Regions from separate parts of the Homo sapiens genome. Here regions 2, 3 and 4 are each linked to region 1. Evidence: fine-mapped expression QTL. A gene starts in region 1. Each other region holds a variant in brackets. All regions are shown on one strand. Distances are from middle to middle.

Region 1 (8,107 bases):
GCAAGACTGTCTCAAAAAAATAAAAATAATTAAGGCAGAATGTTTCTAATTTTCATCTTTAAGAGGAACGGAAAGAAGTAGATTTCTTCGGCTGGGCGCGGTGGCTCATGCTTGTAATCCCAGCACTTTGGGATGCCGAGGCGGGCGGATCATGAGGTCAGGAGATCGAGACCACGGTGAAACCCCGTCTCTACTAAAAATACAAAAAGATTAGCCGGGCGTGGTGGTGGGCGCCTGTAGTCCCAGCTACTCGGAGAGGCTGAGGCAGGAGAATGGAGTGAACCCGGGAGGCGGAGCTTGCAGTGAGCCGAGATCGCGCCACTGCACTCCAGCCTGGGTGACAGAGCGAGACTCTGTCCCCCCCCCCCAAAAAAAAGGAGAATTAGCTTTCTTCTGAAATTAGACGTTAAGGCCAGGTTCCTCACACCTATAATCCCAACACTTTGGGAGGCCGAGGTGGGTGGATCACCTGAGGTCAGGAGTTCGAGACCAGCCTGACCAACAAGGTGAAACCCCGTCTCTACCAAAAACACAAAAATTAGCTGGGCATGGTGGCAGGCACCTGTAGCCCCAGCTACCTGGGAGGCTGAAACAGGAGAACTGCTTGAACCCGGGAGGCAGAGGTTGCAGTGAGCAGAGATCACGCCACTGCACTCCAGCCTGGGCAACAAGAGTGAAACTCCGTTTCAAAAAAAAAAAAAAAGAAATTAGACGTTAAAAAAAGATGTGACACATCATATCAAAATTGTCTACACTACATTAAAGGAGTTAAAAATACTGAAATGCAGCAAGACGAACTTGTCTCGAGACAGGGTCTTGCTCTGTTGCCCAGGCTGGGGTGCAGTGGCGCCATTATGGCTCACTGCAGTCTCGACATCCCGTTCTCACGCAATCCTCCTGCCTCTGCCTCTTGAGTAGCTAGGTCTACAGCTATGTGCCACTACGCCCAGCTAATTTTTTGTATAGATGAGGTTTTGCCTTTTTTCCTTTCTGTAGAGATGAGGTTTTGCCATGTTCCCTAGGCTAGTCTCCAACTCCTGGGCTCAAGCCACCATCTGCTCTGGCCTCCGAAAATGCTGAATTACAGGTGTGAACCACTGTGCCTGGCCGCAATATCATTTAGGATTGCATTTTGTTTAGATTTTTTAATTCTTTAGTTTTTCTTATTATGGTAATATAATAGATCTAGGAGCTAAATTCCAGTATTCAATTTTTGTACAATGATATGCAATTCATTCTCATGATTTGACAGTGTTGACTTTCTATTATTGACAATCTCGTGATCTGAAGAAAAACACTTGTGGTTTTATTATCTTTTTAGTGGGTATTAAGATCAAAATGATGAGCACAAAAAAAAAAAAAAAACGAAAAAAAAAAAGAGGGCCGGGCTCATGACTATAATCCCAGCACTTTGGGAGGCCGCGCCGGGTGAATAACGAGGTCAGTAGTTTGAGTCCGCCTGGCCAACATGGTGAAACCCCATCTCTACTAAAAATACAAAAAATTAGCTGGGCATAGTGGCGGGCGCCTGTAATCCCAGCTACTCAGAAGGCTGAGGCAGGAGAATCGCTTGAACCCCGGTGGCAGAGGTTGCAGTGAACCGAGATCGCGCCACTGCACTCCAGCCCTGGTGACAGAGTGAGACTCCGTCTCAAAAAAAAAAGAGAGAAGAAAACAACCTTCAGTAGGAATAGATAACAAAACATTTGAAATAAGATATATATTTATATACCCAATGAGGGCTAAGAGTTTCTAGCACTGTTGAGGTTGCCAATTGGTCAAAACAGAAAGCAACGATTCCCTTTGGAAAATTAGCTGGCAGTAAGGAACTGGCTACAATGACAAGCCAATAACCATATATGAAAGGTCTCTTTTTGTTGCTTTGTTTGTATTTAATTTCTATTTAAAAGATTGGAACCTCTATTCCTACCTTAATAGCATTTACTAAATGTTAATAGCATTTACTATTTATATTACTATTTATAAATAGTATTTATAAATGTAATAAATATGGTAGTTCAAGTGTAATACTACAGCTAATTATGAATAAGCTCATTCTTAATGTTGAATTTAAGGAACATATATATCTATATATAGATATCTATATATAGACCTATATATCTATATATAGATATCTATATATCTATACATATATCTATATAGATCTATAGAGATCTCCATAGATCTATATATCTATACATACATCTATATAGATCTATAGATATCTCTATAGATCTATATATCTATACATTTATCTAGATATATAGGTATCTATATATATCTATACATATATCTATATAGACCTATATATAGATATCTATAGATATATACTTATATAGACCTAGATATAGATATCTATATATCTATATCTTTATATATCTATATATATATATAGATATAGATTTTTTTTTTTTGAGACGGAGTCTCGCTCTGTTGCCCAGGCTGGAGTGCAGTGGCACAATCACTGCAACCTCCGCCTCCCGGGTTCAAGAAATTTTCCCGTCTCAGCCTCCCAAGCAGCTGGGACTGCAGGCACCCGCCACCACGCCCAGGCTCATTTTTGTACTTTTAGTAGAGAGTGGGTTTCACCATATTGGTCAGGATAGTTTCCAACTCCTGACCTCAGGTGATCCGCCTGCCTCGGCCTCCCAAAGTGCTGGGATTACATGCGTGACCCACAGCACCCGGCCATATTTTCTTTCTATTTTTTGTAAATAAAAAAACATACGTCTGTACATTCCGTACATAGTAATATTTTATTTTCTTCCCAATGTGGTAACTAAAATACATTTAAACGAAGGCTAGAATTTAAAACAAAATTCTTTTACTGATAAGCACACTTGCAAAGTAATGAAAATGTTACATGCATTGCTTTGCATATAAACGTCCAAGAAGTATTTGTTGACCAAATGTCTGAAAATGAAGTATTTTTATCTGTTCCGAAACGCCATAATATTGCAAAGAAGCATTTCAAATTATTGTTGTGTGAAATGTTCAAATTTAGCATTCAAATTTAGCGTTTTCCCACATTTTACCCTTCAATTTACACAATTTGGAAGAAGAGTAGATGAGTTGGTCATTGTTACTTAAAACAATGCGTCACCTTGTTAGGGAAAGAAATTAACATAATGGTCAAGGAGTGATAATTAAACAGAACATGACATTTGCTGTCCATTCAATGTTAAAGTTCTAAGCAAATTAGCATGGAGAAAAGGGATGGGTAGAAATAATAACAGAGCACTAGTTGATTAGTCCGCCTCCACATCCACGCTGCAGGCGTTGGACAGATCCGGCTTTACTGAGTCCACCATGCAGGGAAATGGACGCGCGGGCTAAGCGGAATCCCAGGGGCGCGATCGCACCGGCTGGCGTTCCAGCAAACCCTGCATCCCAGGCCCTGGATTCAGGCTGCCTTCTGAGTCTTTGACTTATTTTCCTTTGCCTGGAAACAGAACGCCGCGGTCCGTACCGGAGAGGGAGAAAGTGCAGGACGACCCGCCGGGAAGACCCGAGCGCGTGCGCCTTCCCCGCGGCTCCACGGGCACAAAACGGTGGCTCCGGAGCTCCTAGACCCAGGCAGCCCCAGCTGCGCGCGCGCCTCCCCCCGAGCGCGGCCGGGCTCCCGCGGGAAACAAGCGACCGCGGCACGCGTGGGCGCGGCGGGTGGGTGCCGGCGCCAGGTTCCTCCCGGCTCCCCACTGCGGATCCTCGCGGCTCCTCCCGGCTCCGCCCAGCGGCTCACCCCGCGGACGGGGATCCCTCCGCCCACCGCCGGCCCTTCCGCGCCAAGTAGTGCGACCCCGGCCCCCGCAGCTTCCGCCAACCCAGGCTCGCGAGGACGAGTCCACGGTCGCGGGCGAGAAGGAGCGACGCAGAGACGGCCGGGGGCGCGGGGCAGTCCCGAGGTTTTCCCCGCGAGGCCGCGGGGGGTCTCCCAGTGGCCAGGGAGAGAGCGCGCCCAGGTCCGCGGAACCACGGCTCCTGCCGCGGCGAGCGGGCCGGGAGTCTACGGTCGGGGCAGAGCCGCCCGGGAAGCCGCGCGAGGACGGCGGCCGGCGGCCGGCGGCGGAGGCAGGTGTCCCGAGGCCTGCCCCACCCCCACTACCGCGGGCAGGAAGAGGAAGGAGCCGCGGCCGTGCCTGGCGGGCGGGGGTGCCCGACCCGCGGAGCGCGTGACCTAGTTCGTCCCAAAGTGGATTTGACAGGTTGTCAGCTCCACTCCCCGCCCCCACCGCCTTCCGGGTCTCCCTCCTCTCGGGGGGAGGCCCACCGCCCGCGGTCCTCGGCTCGGCCTCCCATTGGCTCTCTCGCCGCCTGGCGCCCCGCCCTCTCGGTATCACCCTTCCATTGGCTTGGGACCCCGCCCCTGCCCCTAACTCACCCTCCCACTGGCTTCGTGCCGCCTGGCACCCCGCCTCAGCCCAGAGGACCCGGCCCGCCCTCCCATTGGCCTCGCACCGCCTAATTCCCCGCCCTCGCCCCGGCCCGCCCTCCCATTGGCGTCGTTTCGCCTAGTGCCCCGCCCTCGCCCCGGCCCGCCCTCCCATTGGCCTCGAGCCGCCTGGCGCCCCGCCCCTTCCGCGGGCCCCGCTCCCAGCGCAGCCCGGCTCTCTGCTTGTCTGCGGGTTCCTGCGGGCGTTCCTCAGTGTCTGCCTTCTTCCTTCCCTCTTGAGTGTTGCTCCTCTTCCTCTCCTTTTTTCCATGTCTCTCCTTTTTCTGATCTCCTCCCGTTTCGGCAGCCCGAGCGCTCTTGCCCGGTTGCACCCCGCAGCCTGAGCTGGGCTCCCGGTGCCGGCTGCCTGAGCTCCAGGACCTGCCCTGGGGCCCCCTACAACCTTCCCGCCGCTCCCGGAACCTGACCCCTCTGTGCTTCACTTCTCGGTTTTCTTCCCTGAAATAAGCAGCAGCGAATCCCTTCTCCAGGTTTTCTCATGTGTTCAGTCTGCAAGGCTTCTCCCTTTCTCCACCCTGCGCCTCGGTTTCTCCCCCGCTTCCCCGCCCTCCCTAAACTCAGCCAAGTGGAACAGATCTCCCAGCAAAACAAGGCAGAGGGCGAGGATAAAAATGATAAATGTCAATATCAACATTTTTATTGCTTTAGGTTTTTAAAACAGAAAATTAGCAGGAACGCCCAGATCGACCCAGACCTAGGATCAAGATGGAGTTTCTTAAAGTACCAAGTGAGACTGCAGTGACAAAGTCGATTATCCCAGCAATATAATCAGCTTTGCCTGGGGAATTTACTTTTACTTTGTTTTTATTTGTTTGTTTGCTTTGAGATGGAGTCTCGCTCTGTCGCCCAGGCTAGAGTGCAGTGGCGCGATCTCAGCTCACTGCAACCTCCGTCTCCTGGGTTCAAGCAATTCTCCTGCCTCAGCCTCCCAAATAGCTGGGAGTACAGGCGCCCACCACCATGCCCAGCTAATTTTTGCATTTTTAGTAGAGACGGGGTTTCTCCATGTTGGTCAGGCTGGTCTCGAATTCCTGACCTCAGGTGATCCGCCCGCTTCGACCTCCCAAAGTGCTGGGATTACAGGCGTGAGCCACTGCGCCCGGCCTACTTTTAGTTTATGCAGTATTCTGGCGATTTAAAGTTTGTATTTTTTTTTTAATTTTCTGAGCTCGTTTTGTAAATGGCTGCTCTTGAACGTAAGGATAAATTGACTGATGAGGCTGAGGTTTGGAGCCAATCCCCGCACAAGGCATTTGGCATCAAACACGAGAAACCCTTGGCTATTCAAATGAGGAAACTCAAGTAACTTTCCCAGGGTCACTAAAGTCGGAGACCTCAAACGTGGACCCAGGTCAGGCTCCAGAGGTCCACCAGGACGACCCATCATGGCTCATGAATGTATCCGTAAAAATGGCAGAACTGCTCTTTCCAGCTGCCTTCCTACCTATCATGGGGGTCCTAACCGAGCTCCCCATCATGACATTCAAGGCCTACCTTATAGGATCCCTGCCTTACAGGAGCAGTTTCAGTGCAGCAGGCACACTGACCACCTTTCTGCCAAGACCTTTTTGCCAGAGGGCCTTTGCACTTGAATTTCTTTAGACTTTTCGCCTGGCTTAGCTCGTCTGTCACCTTGGGGAGGCATTTTTCTTTCTTTCTTTGTTTCTTTCTCCTTTTTTTTTTTTTGAAACGGAGTCTTGCCCTGTCGCCCAGGCTGGAGTGCAATGGTGCGATTTCAGCTCACTGCAACCTCCGCCTTCCAGGTTTAAGCGATTCTCCTGCCTCAGCCTCCTGAGTAGCTGTGATTACAGGCACGTGCCACCAACCCTGGCTAATTTTTGTATTTTTAGTAGAGATGGGGTTTCACGATGTTGGCCAGGCTGGTCTCAAACTCCTTCACCTCAGCTTACAGGTGTGAACCACTGGGCCCAGCCTCTCCTCTCTTCCCTGCTCCCCTCCCCTCCCCTTCCCTCTTCTCTCTCTTTTCTTTATTTTTCTTTCTTTCTTCCTTTCTTCCTTCGTTTCTTCGTTTCTTCCTCCTTTCCTTTCCTTTTCCTTTTTTTGAGATGGAGTCTCACTCTGTCGCCCATGCTTGGCTCACTGCAACCTCTGCCTCCCAGGTTCAAGTGATTCTCCTGCCTCAGCCTCCCTAGTAGCTGGGATTACAGGTGCCTGCCACCACACCCAGCTAATTTTTGTATTTTTAGTAGAGACAGGGTTTCGCCATGTTGGTCAGGCTGGTCTCGAACTCCTGACCTCAAGTGATCTGCCCACCTCAGCCTCCCAAAGTGTTGGGATTACAGGCATGAGCCACTGCACCTGGCCTCTTTTTCTTTTTTCTTTCTTTCTCTTTCTTTCTCTTTCTTTCTTTTTTTTTTTTTTTTTTTTTTTTTTTTTTGAGACAGGGTCTCTCTCTGTTGCCAAGGCTCCAAGGCTGGAGTGCAGTGGTGCAATCTCGGCTCACTACAGCTTTGACCTCCTGGGCTCAAGTGATCCTCCCACCTCAGCCTCCCAAGTAGTGGGGACTACAGGTATGCACCACCACACCTGGCTAATTTTTTTAATTTTAATTTAATTTAATTAATTTATTTATTTTGAGACAGAGTCTTGCTCTTTCACCCAGGCTGGGGTGCAGTGGCATGATCTCGGCTCACTGCAACCTCCACCTCCTGGGTTCAAGTGATTCTCCTGTTTCAGCCTCCCAAGTAGCTGGGATTACAAACACCCACCATGGTGCCCAGTTAATTTTTGTATTTTTAGTAGAGACGGGGTTTCACCATGTTGGCCAGTCTGGTCTTGAACTCCTGAGCTCTACCTGCTTTGGCCTCCCAAAGTGCTGGGATTACAGGCATGAGCCATGGCACCCAGCCAATTTTTTTTGTCTTTTTTTTTTTTTTTGTGGAGTCTGGGTTTCACATGGTGAAACCCCAGGCTGGTCTCAAACTCCTGGGCTCAAGTGATCCACCCACCTCGGCCTCCCAAAGTGCTAGGATTCCAGGCTTGCACCCCCTCGCCTGGCCTGGGGGAGGCATTTCTGACATTGTACCTAAAGTACCTTTCCCCGCTCCCTATCATATCACCGTGTTTTCCTCAGAGCTCTTGGCACAGTCTGAAATCATTGTTTACTTACTTATTATGGTCTGTTCTCCTTCATCTCCCTTCCACCATTAAGATGTGAGCTGCTGGACACAGGGGCCTTTTCGGTGTTTTTTCTGAACTGTATCTTCAGGGCACAAGGTGAGTGCTCAACAAATCGTTGATGAACAAATGAACAGGTACATTTGCTGTGACCAAATGGACTAACCAAACTGTCCTTCCCTTTGGATTCTGCCACAATTGTATAGACATACCTATAAGTAAGAAAGTTGGGAGAATAGCTATTTTGTTTTTAAATATTTTGTGTTTCTTTGATTCGTGTACTTTATTTCCTGCAATTTTTGAAAACAAATTAGCAACTTTAATTTGTAACAAAAGGATTAAATAAATATCCTCCCCCCCTTTTTTTTTAATCCTGCTATTTCGTGACAAGGAGAGTGGGAAGGCCATTGTCCCAAGGCCACTGTGTTGCCTACTTTTTTTCCAGCTGTTCACAGAATGTAGCCACTGGCCTTGCCCTCACCCTGGCCCCAGGTGGGCAGATAGTTGGCAGGCAGC
Region 2 (8,107 bases), 37 kb before region 1:
TGGGATTACAGGCGTGAGCCACTGTGCCCGGCCGTGTTGGGGCTACTTTCTAACTACTTCTGACTGATCACTTTGGTGACAAAGGAAATGCTGAATAGATAAGGGGAATCCAATTCTTTTGAGAGTGTCTTTTCAAAGATCCTGCCCACTTTCAGTGAAATAAACTAGACGAATTCCAGGAAGTGTGGACACTGAAAAAACTACAGTAAAGTTCTAGAAGATTACCCCAAGTCCTGGCTGACACCAGCACCTGCTCACAGAGTCCTTCCTTAACAGAGCTGACCAGGGTCTGCATCTGGTGCCAGGTCGTGAAACCTCCAGGAGGGACTAAGTGTGCCCCCTGAGCTAATTGTGGAAGGCAGCTGGGGAGAGGGCCAGCTCCAACCAGCTCTACCAGTTTTCCCCAAGGCCATAGGCAGATCTCCTGGGAACGTCTCCTGAGCTCATACCTATCATGGTTTCAGTGTTCCTGCTTCTGCTATGGGAGAGGATCAACAAACCATTGGTGGGGGGTGGGGACTGCAGTGAGGACAGAGCTTTAATGCCAACTGGACGAGCATGAGCTGTAACTATTTGGCTGTCCTTCTGAATTTCTATTGCTCTGCAAATATTCTCTGAAGAGCAGCAATGAGCAAGGTGAAGCAGGCAGATGTGGGTGAGACTGGGCTGGTATCACCCCACCCATCCGCCCAGCTAAGCAATCTTGGGCAGGCCACTTGTCTATGCCTCAACTTCCTTGTCTGCTAATTGGGGACAATACCCTTATAGGCTTGCGTGGAGATTTAATAAGTCTCACAAAAGTCTCAGAACGAGGCTGGCTTCAGGGGTATGCTGTTAGTGCCGTGACACAGCGTCCCCATGCTCAAAAGGGTCCCACACTTGGGACTGAATGTTCTGCAGTCATCATCTTGAAATTCTTTATTTTTTATTTTTTTGATATGGAGTTTTGTTCTTGTCACCCAGACTGGAGTGCAATGGCACGATCTCGGCTCACTGTAACCTCCGCCTCCCAGGTTCAAGTGATTCTCCTGCCTCAGCCTCCTGAGTAGCTGGGATTACAGGTGCGTGCCACCACACCCAGCTAAGTTTTGTATTTTTAGTAGAGATGTGGTTTCACCATGTTGGCCAGGCTGGTCTCGAACTCTTGACCTCATGAGATCTGCCTCAGCCTCCCGAAGTGCTGGGATTACAAGCATGAGCCACTGCACCCAGCCTGAAATTCTTAATGATTTTGTCTTTGAATTTCTGTTCCCACAGGGCAATGGAGTGCGCATGCATCATGGACTTGTAGTGCAGTGTGTGGTCCCACCTCCCTGCCTCCCCCTGGCAGGTTCCTGACTGCCCATTCCCCTGTCCCCTGCACCCTGGGTTCCATGGCCCCCTCCCCACTCCCACCTGGCCACCTGGCCACCCTTCACTCTGGGCAGGGCCTGAGTGTGGGTGCAGGAGGATCAGGGTAAGGCACGTGTTCCCTGGTGTCTTGAGCACACAGCATGCTCCCGAGCACCCCCGGTGGGGGCAAGCCTCTTGCCTGCTGCCTACCCAGGTACCTAGTGTGTGCTGGTGCAAACTTTGCAATGCCTTGGAGGGTGACCTCTCTGCCACAGATTGGGTGGTAGGCTCCTGGCCCCTAGCCAGGGCATGGTGCATTGGTCTAGTGGCTAGTCAGAGTGGGGCTCAGTGGCAGATGGATGCGCCTGTGAACACAGAATGGTAGGGCAGGGACCCCAGCCCTTGGGAGCGTCCCCACTCCTCCAGGAGCATCCTTGATGCTGCAGGGAGTATAATATTCAACAGAAGATTTACAAACAGGACAGTTACACAGATAGATCATGAAAAAAAGAATACTTTGTATTTGGTACCCTTTTTTTTTTTTAAGACAGGGTCTTGCTCAGTTGCCCAGGCTGGCATGCTGTGGTGCAGTAATAGCTCACTGCAGCCTTGAACTCCCGGGCTCAGGCCTCCCACCTTGGCCTCCTGAGTAGCTGGGACTAGGTGCACAACACCACGCCTAGCTGATTTTTTTTTTTTCTGAAGTAGAGATGAGGTCTCACTACGTTGCCCAGGCTGGTCTCAAATTCCTGAGCTCACACGATCCTCCCAGCTCAGCCTCCCAGAGTGCTGAGATTATGGGCGCAAGCCACTGTGCCCGGCCTGTACTTGGTACCTTTAACAGCACTTTTCTCTGCTGTTCGAACAAGGAGCCCTGTGTTTTCATTTTGCCCTGAGCCCTGCAAATTATGCAGCTAGTCCTGCTGAGAACATTACCTGGCACACAATAGGTGCTCAATCAAAGTTAGTAAGTAGAATTATTATGACAATATATACATTCCCTGTGGAGTCATGTACCTGAGAGGACCATTCCACATCTTCACATGTAAGGATAAGGGTCATGTCTGTTCAGTATCGCGTGGGTCTTGATACAGCATCTTGTGTTAATATGAACATCCAGCCGAGCGTGGTGGCTCATGCCTGTAATGCCAGCACTTTGGGAGGCCGAGGTGGGCAGATCCCTTGAGGCCAGGAGTTACAGACCAGCCTGGGCAGCATAGTGAAACCCCGTCTCTACTAAAATACAAAAATCAGTCGGGCCTGTAGTCCCAGCTATTTGCGAGGCTGAGGCTCGAGAATTGCTTGAACCCGGGAGGTGGAGGTTGCAGGGAGCCAAGATCACACCACTGCACTCCAACCTGGGCCACAGAGCGAGACTTTGTCTCAATAATAATAATAATAATAACATAAACATCCACAGCAACAGAAGATGACATTGATTGCTGCGGTGACCTTTAGCATTCAATTTTTTTTTTTTTTTTTTGAGACAAAGTTTCACTCTTGTTGCCCAGCCTGGAGTGCTATGGCACAATCTGAGCTCATTGCAACCTCCGCCTCCCAGGTTCAAGCGATTCTCCTGCCTCAGCCTCCCAAGTAGCTGGGATTACAGTTATGCGCTGCCACACCCAGCTAATTTTTGTATTTTTTTTAGAGATGGGGTTTCACCAGATTGGGCAGGCGGGTTTGAACTCCTGACCTTGTGATCCGCCCACCTTGGCCTCCCAAAGTGCTGGGATTACAGGCATGAGCCACCACCTTCTTTCAAAGAGCCAAGCACTAAATCTTTATTGAATATCTACCTGGGGAGTAGACAATCTACCTGAATCTAGGGAAGCCTACTATAACAATTCTTTAAAAGGGGATTCAGCTCCAAGTGATGTACTGTGAACTGTACGTGGCATGGGGACCCAGAGAAGGGAGGGATCAATATGGCCTTAGAGCAGTGACAAGCTAATCTGAGTCACATCAAAAGCATCTTAGACTCAATGACACAGAGTGCTGGGCCCCCCAGGGTTGCCAGCTCAGTAGGTCTGGGGTTGCAGGAGTGAATTTCCAGTCCCAGGTGACACTGCTGCTGCCGTACTGTGCTTTGAGAACTACTGTTGTAGACTAGACCAATCCAGGAAGCCTTCATGGAGGAGAAGATCAAGACTTAGTAATTAGCGCAGTTAGTTGATTGGTGGGAAAGAAAGCAATTGCAAACAGAGGGAATGACATGAACATAGGCACAAAATCCAAAATGAGAGTGTTTTGTGTGTGTGCGGGGAAAGGTTTTAAGGAGACAAGGGTGACATGCCTCCTGGTAAGATATTCTGTTCTGATGAGCTATGACTGTGCACTTCTCTCCAAAAAATAAAATAAAATAAAATAAAAATTTTCAAAAATTGGCAAAGATAAATCATGCTATTAGAATAAAATTTTTTTTACTTCTGTTGTAAAACCAGAGTTGTAAGCCATGAAAGTAGATATTATTTTTCTCTAACCCTGTCACCAAAACTCTGTGTGTGTGTGTGTGTGTGTGTGTGTGTGTGTGTGTGTATTGTCAACCCAAAATATCTGAGACAGGTCTCAGTCATTTCAGAAAGTTGATTTTGCCAAGGCTAATGACCACTCGTGAGACAGCCTCAGGAGGTCCTGCGGACATATGCCAGAATGGTCAGGATACAGCTTGCTTTTATACATTTTAGAGTGACATGAGACATCAATCAATATGTGTAAGATGTATATTGGTTTGGCCGGGCCCGGTGGCTCATGCCTGTAATCTCAGCACTTTGGGAGGCCGAGGTGGGTGGATCACCTGAGGTCGGGAGGCCGAGGCAGGTGGATCACCTGAGGTCGGGAGTTTGAGCCTGACCAACGTGGAGAAACCCCGTGTATACTAAAAATACAAAATTAAACAGGCATGGTGGCGGGCGCCTGTAGTCCCAGCTACTCAGGAGGCTGAGGCAGGAGAATCGCTTGAACCCGGGAGGCGGAGGTTGCAGTTGGCTGAGATCGTGCCATTGCAATCCAGCGTGGGCAACAAGAGCGAAACTCCATCTCAAAAAAATAAAAAATGAAAAAAAGATGTACATTGGTTTGGTCCCAAAAGGCAGGACAACTCAAAATTGGGGCTTCCAGGTCCAGGTAGATAAGAGACAAAAGACTGCATTCTAGTCCGGGCACATTGGCTCACACCTGTAATCCCAGCACTTTGGGAGGCCAAGGCAGGGGG[A/G]ATCACTTGAGACCAGGAGATCAAGACTAACCTGGCTAACACAGGGAAACCCCTTCTCTACCAAAAAAATACAAAAATTAGCTGGATATGGTGGTGCACCTTTAGTCCCAGCTTCTCAGGAGGCTGAGGCAGGAGAATTACTTGAACCTGGGAGGCAGAGGCTGCAGTGAGCCGAGATCTCCTCACTGCACTCCAGCCTGGGCAACTGAGCCAGACTCTGTCTCAAAAAAAAAAAAAAAAAAAGGTTGCATTCTTTGGAGTCCTTGATCAGCCTTTCACTGAATACATAACTGAGCATGACTCAGTGAATCTGCATTTTTACATAACCAGTAGAGGAAGCAATCAGATATGCCTTTGTCTCAGGTGAGCAGAGGGACGGTCCCTCATCTGTAAAGATAAGCTATCAATTTACATTGCCAGGGTGAAATTCAACAGAACTGTTTTAGGGTAAAGATCTTGAGGCCCACAAGGAATTTCTCTGGGGGCAAATTGTGAGGAAGGTATGTAGCTTTTATTTATTTATTTTTATTTATTTATTTTTAAGACAGAGTCTGCTCTGTTGCCCAGGCTGGAGTGCCGTGGTGCAATCTTGGCTCACTGCAATCTCCGCCTCCCGAGTTCAAGCCTCCTAAGTAGCTGGGATTACAGGTGTGCGCCACCACGCTTAGCTAATTTTTGTATTTTTTTAGTAGAGACAGGGTTCCACCATGTTGGTCAGGCTGGTCTCAAATTCCTGACCTTGTGATCTGCCTGCCTCGGCCTCCCAAAGTGCTGGGATTACAGGCGTGAGCCACCACACCCAGCCATGTAGCTTTTTTCTAATTTACTTTTTTTCTTTTTTCTTTTTTTTTTAAAATACCACAATCAGGCCAGGTGTGGTGGCTCATGCCTGTAATCCCAGCACTTTGGGAGGCCAAGGCAGGTGAATCACGAGGTCAGGAGATCGAGACCATCCTGGCTAACACGGTGAAACCCCGTCTCTACTAAAAATACAAAAAAAAGAGCCAGGCGTGGTGGCGGGCGCCTATAGTCCCAGCTACTCGGGAGGCTGAGGCAGGAGAATGGCGTGAACCCGGGAGGCGGAACTTGCAGTGAGCCGAGATTGCGCCGCTGCACTCCAGCCTGGGCGACACAGCAAGACTCCATCTCAAAAAGATAAATAAATAAATAAGAAATAAAAATACCACAATCATGATTACATGAGGTATATAGCTTTTTTATCTTTGTAACTATCTTATTTAGGAATAAAATGGGAAGCAGGTTTGCCTGACACTTCCCAGCCTGACTTTTTCCTTGGCTTAGTAATTTTGGGGTCCCAAGATTTATTTTCCTTTCACACTATATAGAAAATACCATGTTACAAAGGATGAGAACACTCCTGAAATTAAAGTATTGGTCCCTTGGAGAGCTTTCTTTTACACTTTCTGTTTGTTTTTTCAAAATTCAGTTTATGACACTATTCCACTGTAAATAGTCCCTTTAAAAGTCCTAGGTCTTTAAATATTTATCTGAGAGCTTCAGTTAAAGCTCTCAGTGGCTACTGATATTTTGACTTTGTATTCTCTGCAAATCTTTAATAGTATACAGCTGCCATTTTTGTAAACATTAGTGGTAAGAAGAATAATTTACTGAAAATAACAAAGTTTTACAGAAAACAGACCTGGTTCATATTCAAATTTTGCCATGTCTTAGGAACTTGTCTAATGCCTTTAGGAAATAAATAATGACAGCCTGGCACAGTGGCTCACACCTGTAATCCCAGCACTTCGGGAGGCCGAGGTGGGCAGATCACAAGGTCAGGAGTTCGAGACCAGCCTGGCCAACATGGTGAAACCCTATCTCTACTACAAAAAGATACAAAAGTTAGCCGGGCGTAGTGGTGGGTGCCTGTAATCCAAGCTACTTGGGAGGCTGAGGTAGGAGAATTGCTTGAACCCGGGAGGCAGAGGTTGCAGTGAGGCGAGATTGCGCCACCGCACTCCAGCCTGGCAACAGAACGAGACTCTGAAACAAAAAAAAAAAAAAAAGAAAAAAAGAAAAAAGAAAATATATAATGACAACCTATTTGTATTAATGAAGATAAGGTTCAGCAGCAAGTAATGAAAATGCCAACAATCAGTGGCTTGAGCAGATAGAAGTCCATCTCTCCCTTAGATAAAATCAAGGCTGGTTCTGCCATCCCTGGGTGAGGGACCCTGACTCCTCTGTCAGGCTCTTGGCTGCACGTCACTCCATGGCCTCAGGTGGTCCATGCCAGCTGTCTCAGCCCTGGCCTGCTCCTCTGCGTGCTGGCCAGGAGAAAGAGGAGAAAGGGAAGGATGATTTCCAGAAGGTGCCCACTCCAGCTGTAAGAGGGGCTGAGCATTGTAGTGTTCACAGCCAGGTGCCCAGCAAAAAAATCAGGATTCTTGTTACTAGAAAAGGAAAAATGCCTGGGCACAGTGGTTGACACCTATAATCCTGACATTTTGGGAGGCCAAGGCAAGAGGATTGCTTGAGCCCAGGAGTTCAAGACCAACCTGGGCAACATAACAAGACTTCATCTCTACTAAAAATAAAATAAAATAAAAAAGCCGGGCACGATGGCTCACAACTGTAATCCCAGCAGTTTGGGAGGCTGAGGCAGGTGGATCACCTGAGGTCAGGAGCTCAAGACCAGCCTGGCCAACATGGTGAAAACCCATCTCTAACAAAAATACAAAAATTAGCCGGGTGTGGTGGGGGGCGCCAGTAACCCGAGTTACTCAGGAGGCTGAGGCAGGAGAATCACTTGAGCCCGGGAGGCAGAGGTTGCAGTGAGCCAAGATCATGCCATTGCACTCCAGCCTGGGCAACAAGAGTGAAACTCCTTCTTAAAAACAAAACAAAACAAAACAAAACATATATATATAAAATCAGGGTGCAGTGGCATGTGCGCACAGTCCCAACTATACAGGAGGACTGCTTGAGCTATGATTGAGCCACTGCACTCCAGCCTGGGTAACGGGGTGAAACTTTATCTCAAAAAAGAAAAGGAGCACAGATATTGAGGATATGTCATTTAGATTATATCTATGAAATCCCTACTAAAGTTCTATACAAAGGCAGTCACAAAACACTAATTATGACTGTCACCACTATCATATATTTGTGTTGCCCGTAAATGGATCATTGTCTACAATAAGCCAGGCGTGGTGGTGGGTGCCTGTAATCCCAGTTACTTAGAAGGCTGAGGTAGGAGAATCGCTTGAACCTGGGAGGTGGAGGTTGCAGTGAGCCAAGATAGGCCCACTGCACTCCAGCCTGGGTGACAAAGTGAGACTCCATCTCAAGAAATAATTTTTAAAAAGGATCATGTTCTTAATTTATTATTTCTTTTTTTTTTTTTTTTTTTGAGACGGAGTCTTGCCTTATCACCCAGGCTGGAGTGCAGTGGCGCCATCTCAGCTCTCTGCAAGCTCCGCCTCCCGGGTTCACACCATTCTCCTGCCTCAGTCTCCCGAGTAGCTGGGACTACAGGCGCCCGCCACCACGCCTGGCTAATTTTTTGTATTTTTAGTAGAGACGGGGTTTCACCGTGTT
Region 3 (8,107 bases), 150 kb before region 1:
TACTACAGCAAAATGCCATAAATTAGGTGGCTTATAAACAACATAAATTTATTTCTGGCAGGTTGGATATCTGGTGAGGGCCTGCTTTCTGGTCCACAGATGAAGCCTTCTCATTGTAACCTCACATGGTGGAAGGGGCAAGGCTGTTCTCTGGGTTCTCCTTAAAAAGGCACCAATGGCCAGGCACGGTGGCTCACGCTTGTAATCCCAGAACTTTGCAAGGCTGAGGTAGGTGAATCACGAGGTCAGGAGTTTGAGACCAGCCTGACCAACATGGTGAAACCCGGTCTCTACTAAAATACAAAAATTAGCCGGGCATGGTGGCGCATGCCTGTAATCCCAGCTACTCAGGAGGCTGAGGCAGGAGAATCACTTGAACTCGGGAAGCAGAGGTTGAGGTGAGCCGAGATCATGCCACTGCACTGCAGCCTGGGTGACAGAGCAAGACTCCATCTCAAAAAAAAAAAAAAAAAAAAAAGTAAAGGATGAGCACTGAATTAGAAATTGATAGAATCAGGTTGTCAGAGCAGCCCTGCTGTTCATCAATTGTGTCATCTCCTACAGATCACTTTCTTTTCCTTCTTCCCCTCTTATTGACCAACACAGTAATAAGTAATACATGTCTTCCTTTGGATCAAATGACAAAGTATAGGTTTTGAGCATAGAACAATGAGATTTGCTTTCTTTTGAAGTTTCTAAAACCAGTCTCCTTACTTTATAATCAGGCTATTTTATGAAAACATTTAAAAAAATACACTTTAAACAAGTGAATTTGCAAGTCACTGACAAGGTCTGTTCTCCTGATGGCCTCCTGAGCTCTGTCACTGAAATTCATCTGTCCCTTTCGGCTTCCTGCATGACCTCACCCTGTTCAGCAGCACGGAAGAATACTAAGAATTGACTCCCATTAAGCAACCTCCTAAACAAAAAGTGGTTTGATAGGCAATAGCCTCAGAGACATAACTGTACAGTGAAATCCAGATCATTTCCACAGGCGTCTCTTCCGTGCCCGTCTGCAGCACTTATTCTAAAAGAAAACACTGGTGAAATTTTAAGGATTTCTCTATAATGTGGTAATTGGTATTTGAAATTGCCTTAAGTCTACATTGAAAAGTCATACGGTACTAGTTTGGGAAAATATGAATCAATGTTTTAACAGAAATGCAGTTTCAGTGTTCCTTTAACACACACATACAACTTAAATGAGTTGCGGGTGCCAGACCTTCTTTTAATGAGTGGATCATTTGCAATGAACCTGATTGTGAATCCAATGCCTTAAAAGCAAATGCTTTAAGTGCTTACACAGGTTGTTCTAGATTATATTTGAGGTCAATAACAAGAACACATTTCACTTCATTTTTTAACTTTACAATAGTTTTACTTCAATTGCATTCAGAATTATTTTTTTTTTTTTTGAGATGGAATCTTGCTCTGCCACCCAGGCTGGAGTGCAGTGCTGCAATCTCAGCTCACTGCAACCTCCGCCTCCCCAGTTCAAGCAATTCTCCTGCGTTCAGCCTCCCCCGTAGCTGGGACTACAGGCACTCACCACCACATCCAGCTAATTTTTGTACTTTTAGAAGAGATGGGGTTTCGCCATGTAGCCCAGGGTGGTCTTGAACCCCTGAGCTTGGGCAATCCACCCACCTTGGCCTCCCAAAGTGCTGGGATTACAGGCATGAGCCACCGTGCCCGGCCCCTGTTCAGAATTCTGGCAATTGTAGTGCAAGAGGGACAAGAATCTGCCTCTGCACAAAGTTGCAAAATAATACTGTGGTTCTTTTCTCGTCTAATTTTCATAAACTCTTAACAACAAGCATGTTATTTCTGGAGAAACAAAATCACAGTTTGAATTGAATATAATCTTTATATATAATCTTACAGAGGGACTTTTTGTTCCTGAACTCCTGATAAGAAAGAACTTTTTATGTGACCCGTATCCAACTTGTGCAACTTATCTAAAGTAAGCTCACAAATGTATTTTCTCAAATAATACAATACATACTTCATTATAATAGCCTTGAATTTCCAAATAGGTTGAAAACAAAACTCCTTGTGAGTGGGAGGGGTAGTTTTAACCAAAAAATCAATTAAGTGAGAAGATTTGGTGGTGGTGGTGGGATTAGAAATCCTCATTTTATTTTGTTCTCATAAGCATTTTAAACTGTCCCTCTGGAATCACGTTGTTTTTGAACTTGCATGGATGGTAGGATTCTTTAAGGTAAGGACCAGGTCCTACTCATCTTTGTTTTCTCCGAAACCAGCATATCATTGGTTGAAATAATTCCCATGAAAACTGCCATTCTCTCTGGTGTGTGGACACAATTTCTAACTGACAGGGATCTGAAGTATGGATTTTCAGTAGCTGCTTACGAGTCACTGCACTGAGTCTGCTTATTACAGAAAACTGCCTGACTCAAAGCTCAGCTAAGCCCCCTTGCTTAGCTGCACCGAACCTTACAGAGCATCCCTGTCTGCACTGACCTTGGCCTCTGCCACTCTCCCAGGACACGTGGTTTGTTTCTCTGAGAAGCAATTGTGGTAATGCCACGTTGGGCAGACAGGCTTCTTCAGTGGTAGACCACAGTCAGGAGGAAAGGAACACTCTCTAGGGGACAGCGTTTCACTGGGTGGTTTTCCAGGGACGGTGCGTTGGCAGCACCCACGGTAGGGTGTGTTGGCAGTGTTGGCAGCACCCACCCTGGCCAGGCCTGTGCCTCTGCAGGGCTGCACCCTCCCCAGAAGGCAGTCCCTCCCGCCAGCCTTTCCCTAATGGATTTCCATTTCTATCGATTGGGGACTTAGACGCCGGCAAGCAATTAGTCCTCATCAGGCAGCAGGAGTTTCCTAAGGGGACTGCCAGCTAGTCTAATTGCTGGCAGCTGTGGGGACACTCAGCTGCCAGGCACAGGCTGTTAACCCCCAGTGTCCCGGGCTCCAAACAGTCTCCTGACCTAGCACAGTTCCTCACTGTGGCATGAATTTGGAGATGGCTGTTCTTTATCTTGGAATACTCTGTTGAGAGATTTGCTTTACTCTTCAAAGACACTTTGAGATAAAGTGTGAAGTGCTCAACCTTGCTCTTTAGCAGGAAAATACCTCAGAGAGGAAAAAGCAAAGGAGGATTTACAACTGGTTTCTAGGCCAGCGTGGTAGCTCAGGCCTGTAATCCCGGCACTTTGAGAGGCCGAGGCAGGTGGATCACGTGAGGTCAGAAGTTCAAGAACAGCCTGGCCAACATGGTGAAACCCCAACTCTACTAAAAATTCAGAAATTACTCTGGACATCTGTAATCACAGCTACTCAGGAGGCTGAGGCACATGAATTGCTTGAACCTGGTAGGTGGAGGTTGCAGTAAGCCGAGGTCATACCACTGCACTCCAGCCTGGTCGACAGAGAGACCCTGTCTCAAAAAAAAATTTTTTTTTAATTGTTTCTATTATGGGAATTCTCAAAAACTCACAAAAGTAGAATAAGCCCCCATATACCCCATATATACCCCCATATACCTGTCCATCAGTGAATTCTCTACCTTCTGCCATC[C/T]TTTTTGGCCTATTCCCCCCACCTCCGCTTTTTTTCTTTTTACTAGAGAATTTTTAAGCAAATACCAGACGTATCATTTTACTTATAAGTGCTTTAGCATGTCATTCTAATATAGTTTAATACAATTTTTTTTTTGAGGCAGGGTCTTGCCCTGTTGCCCAGAGTGAAGTGCAGTAGAGGGCAGTGGTTTGATCGTGGCTCACCGCAGCTTCAAACTCCTACACTCAAGCGATCCTCCCGCCATGACCTCCTAAGTTAGTAGCTGGGACTACAGGCGTGCACCACCACCCCCAGCTAATTAAAAAAAATTTTTTTAGAGACACAGTCTTGCTATGTTGCCCAGCCTGGTAAAGATATTTCAAAAAATAACCATAACATAATTACTGCACCCCCAAAAAACAGTTCCCTAATAAACAGTTCCTTAATATCACCCACTATCCAGGCATGTTCACATTTCCACAATGCCTCAAAAATGCCTTTTCAGGCCGGGCACGGTGGCTCATGCCTGTAATCCCAGCACTTTGGGAGGCCGAGGCAGGTGGATCACGAGGTCAGGAGATCGAGACCATCCTGGCTAACACGGTGAAACCCCATCTCTACTAAAAATACAAAAAATTAGCCGGGCGTGGTGGCGGGCGCCTGTAGTCCCAGCTACTTGGGAGGCTGAGGCAGGAGAATGGCATGAACCTGGAAGGCAGAGCTTGCAGTGAGCTGAGATCGCGCCACAGCACTCCAGCCTGGGCGACAGAGCAAGACTCCATCTCAAAAAAAAAAAAAAAAAGGTCTTTCTGATGAAAAAATGGCCAACATCATTAATCATCAGAGAAATGCAAATTAAAACCACAATGAGGGCCAGGCACAGTGGCTCATGCCTGTAATCCCAGCACTTTGGGAGGCCAAGGTGGGTGGATCACAAGGTCAACAGATCAAGACCATCCTGGCCGACATGGTGAAAGCCCGTCTCAACTAAAAATACAAAAATTAGCTGGGCATGGTGGCACACACCTGTAGTCCCAGCTACTCGGGAGGCTGAGGCAGGAGAATCGCCTGAACCCAGGAAGCAGAGGTTGCAGTGAAGCCAAGATAGTGCCACTGCACTCTAGCCTGGGTGACAGAGTGAGACTCTGTCTCAAAAAAAAAAAAAAAAAAAAAAAAAAAAACACACATGAGATATCATCTCACCCCAGTTAAAATGGCTGTCATCCAAAAGACAGACAATAACAAATGCTGACAAGGATCGAAGATGTGGTGAAAAGGGAACCCTCATACACTGTTGGTGGGAAGGTAAATTAGTACAGCCACTATGGAGAACAGTATGGAGGTTCCTCAACAAACTGAAAATAGAGCTACCACATGATCCAGCAATCCCATTGCTAGGTATACACCTGTGTATTACTCTGTTTTCACACTGCTGATAAAGACATATCCCAGACTGGGAAGAAAAAAGGTTTAATTGGACTTACAGTTCCACATGGCTGGGGAGGCCTCAGAATCATAGTTGGAGGCGAAAGGCACTTCTTACATGGTGGCGGCAAGAGAAAATGAGGAAAAAGCAAAAGCGGAAACCCTTGATAAACCCATCAGATCTCATGAGACTTATTCACTATCATGAGAATAGCATGGGAAAGACTGGCCCCCGTGGTTCAATTACCTCCCCCTGGGTCCCTCCCACAAGACATGGGAATCCTGGGAGATACAATTCAAGTTCAGATCTGGCTGGGGAAACAGCCAAACCATATCAACCCCAAAGAAAGGAAATCAATGTATCAAAGAGATATCTGCACTCTCATGTTTATCACAGCACTATTCACAATAGCCAAGGTTTGGAAGCAACCTAAGCCTCCATCAACCGACAAATGAATAAAGAAAATGTGGTACATGTACACAATGGACACGTACTCAGCCAAAAAAAGAATGAAATTCCGTCATTTGTGACACAGATGGAACTGGAAGACATTACATTAAGTGAAATCAGGCACAGAAAGACCAATTGCACATGTCTCACTCATATGTGAGAACTAAAATTTAAAACAAACTCATGGGGATAGAGAATAGAATGATGGTTACCAGAGGCTGGGAAGGGTAGTGGTAGGTGTGGGGGTGGAGTGAGGATGGTTAATGGGGGCAAAAATATAGTTAGATAGAATAAGATCTAGCACAACAGGTGACTACACTAAACAATAATTTATTGTGTTTATACACACACACACACACACACACACACACACACACACACACACACACGTATTTTGAGACGGAATCTTGCACTGTCGCCCAGGCTGGAGTACAATGGTGCCATCTCAGCTCAATTCGACCTCTGCCTCCTGGGTTCAAGTGATTCTCCTACGTTCAAGTGATTCTCCTGCCTCAGTCTCCCAAGTAGCTGGGATTACAGGTGCCTGCCACCATGCGCAACTAATATTTTTTGTATTTTTAGTAGAGACAGGGTTTCACCGTGTTGGTCAGGCTGGCCTCAAACTCCTGACCTCAGGTGATCCGCCTGCCTGGGCCTCCCGAAGTGCTGGGATGACAGGCATAAGCAACCGTGCCCAGCCCTATTGTATATTTTTAAATAGATAAAAGAGTCTAATTTTCCATGTTCCTAACACAAAGAAATGATAAATGCTCAAGGTGATGGATACCCCACTTACCCAGACGTGATTATTACACATGGTCTACCTTTATCATCACATGCACCCATGAACATATATACCTATTATGTACCCATAAAAATTAAAAACTAGGCCGGGTGTGGTGGCTCACAACTGTAATCTCAGCACTGTAGGAGGCCAAGGCGGGAAGACTGCATGAAGCCAGGAGTTCCAGACCAGCCTGGGCAACAGAGGGAGATGCTGTCTCCACAAAAAATAAAAAATTAGCCAGGAATGGTGGCGTGCACCTGTAGCCCCAGGAACTCAGGAGGCTGAGGCAGGAGGATCACTTGGACCCAGGAATTCAAGGCTGCAGTGAGCTATGATCACTCCACCACACTTCAGCCTGGGCAACACAGCCAGACTCTGTTTCTAAAAATAAAAGACCAAACAACTAAAATAATTAAAATGTCTTTTCAGTTTGTTTGTTTTTTGGGGGGACGGAGTCTCTCTCTGTCACCCAGGCTGGAATGCAGTGTGCAGTGGCGCAATCTCCGTTCACTGCAACCTCCGCCTCCCAGGTTCAAGTGATTCTCCTGCCTCAGCCACCTGAGTAGCCGGGATTACAGATGTCTGACACCACACCCAGCTAATTTTTTGTATTTTTAGTAGAGATGGGGGTCTCACCATGTTGGTCAGGCTGGTCTTGAATTCCTGACCTCAGGTATCTGCCCACCTTGGTCTCCCAAAGTGCTGGGATTCCAGGCGTGAGCCACCGCACCCGGCCTTTTCAGTTTGTTTGAATCAGGATGAAATCAAGGTCACCCTGAACTTAGTTGTGATTGCATGACGAGGTCGTCATTTGTCCTACACAATTTTACAGTCTAAATGTGGCAGATTATATCCTCAGTGCTCTTTTTTTTTTTTTTTTTTTTTTGTTGAGACGGATTCTTGCTCTGTCGCCCAGGCTGGAGTGCAGTGGCGCGATCTTGACTCACTGCAACCTACGCCTCCCGGTTCAAGAGAGCCTCGTGCCTCAGTTTCCCAAGTAGCTGGTATTACAGGCACCCGCCACCACGCCCAGCTAATTTTTGTAATTTTAGTAGAGACAGAGTTTCACCATGTTGGCCGGGCTGGTCTTGAACTCCTGACCTCAAGTGATCCACCTGCCTTGGCCTCTCAAAGTGCTGGGATTACAGTCATGAGCCACCGTGCCTGGCCGCCTCACAGTGTTCTTTTATGTGCTCCTTTAGCCCCCATATTTTCTATAAACTAGTAGAAAAATTTAGACCATTCATGAGAGTTAGGTTTTTTTTGTTTTGTGTTTGTTTTTGTTTTTCAAGAATACCTTGGGCTGGGCGCGGTGGCTCACACCTGTAATTCTGACACTTTGGGAGGCCGAGGTGAGAGGATCACTTGAGCCCTAGAGTTCAAAACCAACCTGGGGAATAAGACAAAACCCAATCTCTACACAAAATACAAAAAATTAGCCGGGCCTGGTGCCACGCACCTGTGGTCCCAGCTACTCAGAAGGCTGAGGTGAGAGAATCGCTTGAGCCTGGGAGGCTGAGATTGCCGTGAGCCAAGATCGTGCCACTGCACTCCAGCCTGGGTGACAGAGCGACAAAGAAATACAAAGAACAAACAAATAAAAAACCCAAGAATACTTTATAGGTGGTGCTGTGAACTTGCTTTTGCTTTTTATTCAGGAGGCACAAAATCTCTCACTATCCAATAATGTTAGAACTGATCAGAGTTCAAATGTTGTCAGCCTGACCCATCTATTCTAAAGTTCCCTATTAACATTTCACCCAATAATTTTAGCAGATATTGATAATCAGTGGCTAGAATGATTTTGTTAGGGTTTACTAAATGGCAGCATTCTAATGTTTTCATTCCTTTGGCATATATTAGCTATAGTTCTTCTATAGAGAAGAATTCCCCCGTCATGTTTGCAAAGGCAGGATAAATAC
Region 4 (8,107 bases), 460 kb after region 1:
ATTCACAACTGTAAAGTCATGGGATCAACTAAAGTGTCCCTCAGTGGAAGACTGGATAAAGAAAATGTGGTATATATACACAATGGAATACTATTCAGCCATAAAAAAGAATAAAATGATGTCTTTGGCTGCAACATGGATGGAACTGGAGGCCATTATCTTAAGTGAAACAATCCAGAAGCAGAAAGAGAAATACACATGTTCTCATTTATAAGTGGGAACTAAATAATGTATACACATGGACATAGAGTGTGGACTGACAGGCATTGGAGACAGAAGGGTGGTGACAGGAGGGCAATGGATGATGAGAAGTGACTTAATGGGTCCGGTGTACATTGTTTGAGTGGTGGATACTTGGAAAGTCCAGACTTTACCACTAGGCAATATAGCCATATAACAAAATTGCACTTGTACCCCTTATATTTATACAAATAATAATAAATCAATAAAATAACAAAATAAAATTTATTTTTTCTTTTAACCTTTAAAAAATAACTTATGTTTTCTTATACATATTATATATTTTAATGTAACATACAATTATAATATATGTAATATGTATAATATATATTACATATAATAGGTACATATTTAATCACACAAAGGTATACTGACAGAACATTTTTTATGGTTTGATTTTTTAATTTAACACATGAGAAGTTTTCTTTCTAGTTAATTAGCCCTTGAAAACTTAACTTTAATGATTATGTGATAGTCCATAAAAATGAATATACTTTATTTTTTACCCATTTCAATAGTATTGAATATGTTGTTTTCAGTTTTTTATGAATATAAATATTGACACACTATATATATCTCCGTGCTTATTTCTGACTCTCTTCAAATAAATTCAAGTAAGTGGATTACTGCATCAAAGAATAAGGATATTTATAAGATTCTTAATTTGCATTGCCAAATTGTTTTCAAAAAGAATGATCCAATGTATATACACACGAGCAGTGTATTAGAATTCTAAACATTTTACCATTTAGCAAATAAATATTAGGAATACAGTTTCCCTGTTGAATATCAGTTATTTTTACATTAGAGCCTAAAAATGTTTTATATGTGAGATATGGAAATATTACAAAAATTATAAACCAAGTTTGTGTAATTGGAACACCATAGCTATTTCTTACTAAAAGTAACTATTTAAAATAGTTTTGAGATAACTCAAAAGATTAATGCTGTTTATTTTTATTAAGTTGAGATTTCTACATATTACATTTTATTACAATAAAGTACACTTTTGTTCCTCTTTGTTCCAAAGTCTGTGACATTACTGTAGCTAATGTTGATATTGATCAGATCACTTCCTCTGTGTCAAGCCTTATGCTATGTGTTTTACATGTATTGGCTCATTTAATCCCCTCAACGATCCTAAGAAATGTGTTAATTATTACTATCACTGTTTAACAGATGAGGACGACATTGAAGTTGAGAGAGGTAATTGTGCCAACTGAGGGCCATCTTAATGTACAATTCCAGACATGCCATTGACCTTGTGGTCTTTGTGTGAACAGTATCTCCTGGAGATGTGCAGTGCACAGCTGGTGCAACTGTACATGGCAGCCCTAAACTGCTAACAAATGATGGAGTCTCTCCTTCAAACCAGATCTGTTTGACTTGAGCTTTTAGTCAAATGAAATATTGCTCCTGAAAGTCATGATTGAATCCATATAGGATTGTGTTCAGTACCAGAGAATCAAAGAGTTATAGATGATATGAAGATAAATATCATATCACGTTATATATTGAGTCCTAAGTGATTCTATTAACAATAATTCTATTACTGTATTAAAGACTTCTAGAAACAAGTAACATAACATTTTGATTAAGCCCAAGAACTTGAAAGAATAATCTCTGGAGGCTTTTTCCCCCTGGGTCTCAATACACGTATGCTATATTTTTCCAAAACCAGAAGAAATCTCACCGGATTGGTTTAGTAGATCCTTCTGGTCCATCCATCTCATAAGAGAAAACATTATCCCATTTAAATTGTAGGTTCCAATCAAAAGTTCCCCTTACAAGAGGAGAGGGCTTATACTCCAGAGTTCTATCATCAATGACATCTATCAGGGGGCACACCACCATTTTGGGGTCCTTGGCAATGGCATGCAGCAGGGGCTCCAGCCATACTCTGTTCACCTCACAGTGGCTGTCCAGGAACACCAGAACATCCCCTGGGGAGGCAAGAACAGGGCAATGTTAGTCCACATAGCTGAAAAAATACGGCAATCCAAATCAAAGTTCAATGTGATGAATATTTCTTGAGCATTTACTATGTGTTTGGCTCTTACAGTGCTTTCATTTTCATTGGAAGGAAACAAGAAATACATTATTATGTACAAAAATATGCAACATCATGTGCCATAGATGTTGAGGGGAAGCCAGTAATTGTGGGTTAGAGAGTGGTTTTGGGGAGAATTCTAAAGGAGCAGGTGGAACTGAACTGGATTTCCATTTTAAAAAATGATTTTAGCTTGGTCTTGACTGATCAGCTTAAATTTAGCAAATTTTTACTGAAAGGACACCTTCTTAGGCATTGAGTTTGGTGCATGGGATGCAGACATGCATCACGACTTTTGCTCTTGAGTTCAAGTTTTTTTTTTTTTCTGAGATGGAGTCTTGTTCTATCACCCAGGCTGGAGTGCAGTGGCATGATATTGGCTCACTGCAACATCCGCCTCCCGGGTTCAAGCAATTCTCCTGCCTCAGCCTCCCAAGTAGCTGGGATTACAGGTGCCTGCCAACATGCCAGGCTAATTTTTGTATTTTTAGTAGAGACGGGGTTTCACCGTGTTGGCCAGGCTGGTCTCGAGCTCCTGACCTCAGGTGATCCGCCCACCTCAGCCTTTGAGTTCAAGCTTCAGTGGGGACCTATTCTGCTTAGAGGACATGGGAATAATTGGCATGGTTAAAGTAGAGAAAGTGTATTATTGAAGTACACCAGGGGCTTGATGTAGAAGGAACCCCAAACTTCAAGTAGCAGAGTTTAGACTTTTTCTTGTAGCCAGTGTAAAATCATTAGAAAGGTATAAAAAAATCTCATGTTTTGATCAGAAGACTTAATATGGCAATAACCCCCATACTAATCTACAGATTTAGTGCAATCCCTATTGCAATCCCAGCTGGCTCTTTTTAAAGAAATTGATCCTAAAAGTCATATGAAAAGGCAATGGACCTAGATTAGCCAAAATAATTTTGAAAAAGAAAAATAAGGTTGAAGGGCTTTCTGATTTCAAGGGTTACTACAAAGTGATAATAATCAAAACAGTGTGCCATTGGTGTAAGGATAGACACAGAAACCAGAAATAAACCATGTGTCTATGGTCAATTGATTTTTGACAAGGGCCAAGACAATTCAATGGAGAAAGTATAGTCTTTTCAATAAATTGTGCTGAGGCAACGGAATATCCACATGCAAAAGAATGAAGTTAGACCCCTACCTCATATCATACTAAAAATCAAATCAAATGGGTCATAGACCTAAGGTAAGAGCTAAAATTATAAAACTCAGAAGGAAACATAAGCATATATTTATGACCTTAGGTGAGGCAATGGTTTCTTAGATATGACACCAAAAATACAGGGGACATAAGAAAAAA[C/T]ATATACGTTGGAATTCATCAAAAGCAAAAACTTTTGTGCTTAAAAGACACAATCGAGAAAATGAAAAAAAAAAAATGGCTGGTGCGGTGGCTTATGCCTGTAATCCCAGCACTTTGGGAGGCTGAGGGGGGTGGATCACCTGAGGTCAGGAGTTCAAGACCAGCCTGGCCAACATAGCGAAACCCCGTCTCTATTAAAAATACAAAAAAAAAAAATTAGCCAGGTGTGGTGGTGGGTGCCTGTAATCCCAGCTACTTAGGAGGCTGAGGCAGGAGAATCACTTGACCCCAGGAGGCGGAGGTTGCAGTGAGCCAAGATCGTGCCACTGCACTCCAGCCTGGGTGACAGAGCAAGACTCTGTCAAAAAAAAAAAAAAGAAAGAAAAAAAAGAAAAGAAAAGAAAAAGAAACAAAGAAAGAGAAAAAAATCCACAAAATGGGGGAAAGTATTTCCAAATCATACATATACTAAAGGACTTGTATGAGAATATATAAATAATTCTTACAAGTTAGTAATAAAAAGACAACCTGATTTAAAATGCGCAAGAGATTTGAATAGACATCTTTGCAAAGACGTATAAATGGCTGATGAGCATGTGAAAAGATGTTCAACACCATTAGTCATCAGAAAAACGTTAATAAAAATCACAGTGAGGTATCCCTTTACATCCACTAGGACGGCAAGAATGAAAAAGACAGACAATAGCAAGTGTTGGGGAGGTGGTGGAGAAATTGAAACACTTGTCCAGTGCTGTTGGGAATGATGGGTGGGAGGGGAGGAGTACAGAGAACAGGAAAGTTCTCTCTTGCCTGAAGGGCACTCTCTGGGCTGAGTTCTCTGAGGGTGTGTGGCTGGCAATAGCAACTTTGAGGACCTCCCTTCTCATCCCTGGTGGTCTCTGGTCAGCAGTTCCCACAAACTGGGCAAGTGCATTCTATTCTGGTGACTCAATCTGTCTTCTCAGCTCCTTAAGATCCTGTGTTCTGTCTCCAGCTTCTCTGCTGAGGCCTGTCCATTCTTCTAGATAGTCCTACCGGACACCATCTAAGATGATCCCTATAGCTCTCTCTCCAACACTGCCAAAGCAAACTCTGCCATAAATACAGCTACTAATCTAAAAGCAAGTGTCCTTTGTTCTACAGCTGGTCACAGTCTTTTTATCCTTTTGATTTTCGGCAGAAAACTAACATTAGTTCACTTCTCCTCAATCCCAATATATTTCCAATTTTATTGTATTGATGTCTGAGAATGTGCTGAATTCATATCAAGTCTCTCTCACCAGGCTTTGAGCAGTAGCTTTCTCCAAAAATCTCCTTTAATCTCTAACAACATGACTCAATCTGGCTGAGCCATCTCATTGGTTCTCAGATCTCTATTTTGAAATATCTTTATCGTGGTCAGTCTAACAACTCACTTTGGAATATTACAGCTATGATTTTCATGCCTCAACCAAAACTGAGCTAACAAGAGTCCCATTTTTAACACATATGTTTTCATACTATTGGCAGCACACACACAGCTTTATACTTCACATTTTTCACCTAAAATAGCTTCTATAATATTACGTAACATTATTAGCATTTTAAAATCATGTCTGCTCATTTGATAGGTGAAAAATAACATCTGGTTCTCCTAAGAAGATGTACGAATGGCTAGCAAGCACACAAACAGATGCGAAACATCATGTCATTAGGAAAACACAAATCAAAACCAACGTGAAGAACCACTTCACTTCCACTAGGATGACGAGAACTTAAAAAATGAAAAATAAGTTTTGGCAGGGATATGGAGAAATTTGAACTCTTACACATTGCTGGTGGGAGTGTAAATGGTGCAGCCACTGAAGAAAAGAGCTTGGCAGCTCCTCAAAAAATTAAACCTGGAATTACCATAAGACCCAGCAATTCTATTCCTAGGAACATGCCCAAAAGAATTCAAACAAATGTATATATGTGCATGGTCACAGCAGTACTGTTGACAACAGCCAAAAGAGGGAAACAGCCCAAATGCCCATCAATGGATGAATGGAGAAACAAACTGTGGTGTATCACAGAATGGAATATTATTCAACCATAAAAAAGGAAGCACTGACACATCCACCATGTGGATGAACCTCAAAAATATACTAAGTGAAAGAAGCCCGACACAAAAAGTTACATATTGTATGATTCCGTTGATATGAAATATCTAGAAAGAGACAGAACACAGATAGGTGGTTGCCAGAGACTGGAGGGAAGGAAGCTGCTTAATGGCTAAAAGACTTTCTTTTCAGGTAATGAAAATGTTTTGGAGTTAGAGGTCATGGCTGTACAACATTGTGAAGGTGCGAAATGCTACTTAATTGTTCATTTTTAAATGATCAGTTTTATGTTAATCGTGCCTCAATTTTAAAAAATCTGGTTAATTTTTTTTTAATCGCTGGTGAGGTTGAATTTTCCACATGATTAGCCATTTGTAAATGAAATTGTCGTGTACTTTGCCTATCGGAGTAGTTTTGTTTTTTGTTTTTTTTTTTTTAGATAGAGTCTCGCTCTGTCACCCAGGCTGGAGTGCAGTAGCATGATCTCAGCTCACTGCAACATTCACCTCCTGGCTTCAAGCAATTGTCCTGCTTCAGCCTCCCAAGTAGCTGGGATTACAGGCACCTGCCAACATGTCCAGCTAATTTTTGTATTTTTAGTGGAGATGGGGTTTCACCGTGTTGGCCAGGCTGGTCTCAAACTTCTGACTTCAAATGATCTACCTGCCTCAGCCTTCCAAAGTGCTGGGATTATGGGCGTGAGCCACCATGCCCAGCTTGGAGTTGTATTTTTAATGGATTTTAAATGTACATTTTACATACTAAAAATATTAACTTTTAGTCCTGTTACATTTCCCCAGCCTACTGTTATTTAATTTTATTATTTTTTATTTGCAGCAATTTTACATTTTTTTGTTAAAAAAATAGACTTTTTTTTAGCACCTTTTCCATTGGTTTTAAGCTTTGAAATTTCTTTATTCATAAAACAGGCAAGTATTAATCTATGTTTTTATATTTTTAAATTATCCCTTAAGAAGTTTGATGATGATGATGTTTTTACAGAGACAGTCTCACTCTGTTGCCCAGGCTGGAGTGGAGTGGTGCTATTATAGCTCACTATAACCTCCAACTCCTGGACTCAAGCGATCCTCTTGCCTCAGCCTCCTGAGTAGCTTAGGACTACAGGTGTGCACCAACACACTCGCCTACTTTTTTTAATAAAAATTTTTGTAGAGATGGTGTCTCACTGTGTTGTCAGGCTGGTCTTAGAACTCCTGGCCTCAAGCAATCCTCTTGCCTTGGCCTCCTAAAGCGCTAGGATTACAAGCATGAGCCACCACACCTGGCTATGGTTTGATTTTTTAAAATAAAATTAACATTAATCCAGTTATAATTTATTTGGGTTATGGTATGAAATAAAGACCTAAAATTTTCCCAAATGGCTAATTGTTTAAGTGGCATTAAACAACAACTGCAACAAAAACATTTTAAAAGTCTTTTTTCCCATACAGATTTGTGGTATCTCTTTACTGTATACAGTGTACACTTGTACCCTTAATATTGAAAGATTTAAATATTTGCAACTTTGAGGATTCTAATGACCCAGAAAGACCATAAATGCAATATTAAAAATTGCAAAATAATTTAAAATTATACTTTATGCAAAATTAATATGGGGTATTACTGAATTTTGATTTAAGTTAAAAACGTGGGAACAGGCCACCTAGCACCTACATTTCAATGAGGTTTTATTTTCACTCATCATAAAATATTTAACAGGGGAAATTTACATCCTGTAAGGAGAGCAAAGTAGTAGTGAGGGTCCCTCTTCAGCTGATTTCTCTCCTTCACAGGAATATTTTGTGGAAACCTAAAGTTTGGTGCTAGGAAAGGACGGTTGCTCTACTTCTGCTGCCTTCGAGAGTTTCGGGAAGGACCGTGCTATTTATTGGTTTTAGAGATGGCCTATCATTCATGTGCTAGATGACCTATCAGACATTCATCAGATTCTCTTTAGTGCTTGTGATGAGTAAAGGGCGTGAGGTCAAGCCTGCCTGATAGAGGAATTCTTCCCCTACTTGCTTCCAAAGAGTATTTGTGGAAATATTCTAAACAATTCCATTGCTCCCTAAAGTTTGGAGTTGGGAGCTACGTCCTCCATCTTACCCTGTGTAGAAGCTTATTTTCTGCTCTCCTGTCGTAGTCTATTTGCACCATTTCTCTAGGGATTGTGGATTGCAACGTTTGTTAACTTGTTTTTTGAAAAGCAACAAATAGCGTATGTATCAATTTCACAGTATTTCCTGTTTTTCTCTGTTTTGTATTTATTTTCGTTCTTTGGTTAGTGTCCACATTTTCACCCTTAAACGTAACTCATTATATATAATTTATTTTACATCACATTAAAATTCTCAGTTTGGTCTCTACAACCAAGCATTTTTAAAATCTTAAAAATATTTTTTCTTTTTTTTTTACCTA

Evidence for each region.
Region 2: its variant is fine-mapped to the expression of LINC01003 in minor salivary gland (GTEx, PIP 0.93).
Region 3: its variant is fine-mapped to the expression of LINC01003 in stomach (GTEx, PIP 0.90).
Region 4: its variant is fine-mapped to the expression of LINC01003 in ileum (GTEx, PIP 0.98).

The regions. Positions count from the first base shown.
Region 1 is chr7:152,460,176-152,468,282 of GRCh38, reverse strand. LINC01003 (long intergenic non-protein coding RNA 1003) reads right to left here and starts at 4,159. Exons shown (of 1, transcript NR_027387.1): 1 at 2,738-4,159. RefSeq lists enhancers at 3,234-3,733, 3,734-4,235 and a silencer at 3,508-4,527.
Region 2 is chr7:152,496,927-152,505,033 of GRCh38, reverse strand. No RefSeq gene overlaps it. Among named protein-coding and RNA genes, the nearest start is that of LINC01003, 37 kb to the right of the region's middle. RefSeq lists an enhancer at 4,625-5,125. The variant A/G (reference allele first, on the strand shown) is at 4,547.
Region 3 is chr7:152,609,979-152,618,085 of GRCh38, reverse strand. No RefSeq gene overlaps it. Among named protein-coding and RNA genes, the nearest start is that of XRCC2, 62 kb to the left of the region's middle. The variant C/T (reference allele first, on the strand shown) is at 3,544.
Region 4 is chr7:151,996,790-152,004,896 of GRCh38, reverse strand. It overlaps GALNTL5 (polypeptide N-acetylgalactosaminyltransferase like 5), which reads right to left. Exons shown (of 9, transcript NM_145292.4): 6 at 1,934-2,183. Among named protein-coding and RNA genes, the nearest start is that of GALNT11, 25 kb to the left of the region's middle. The variant C/T (reference allele first, on the strand shown) is at 3,609.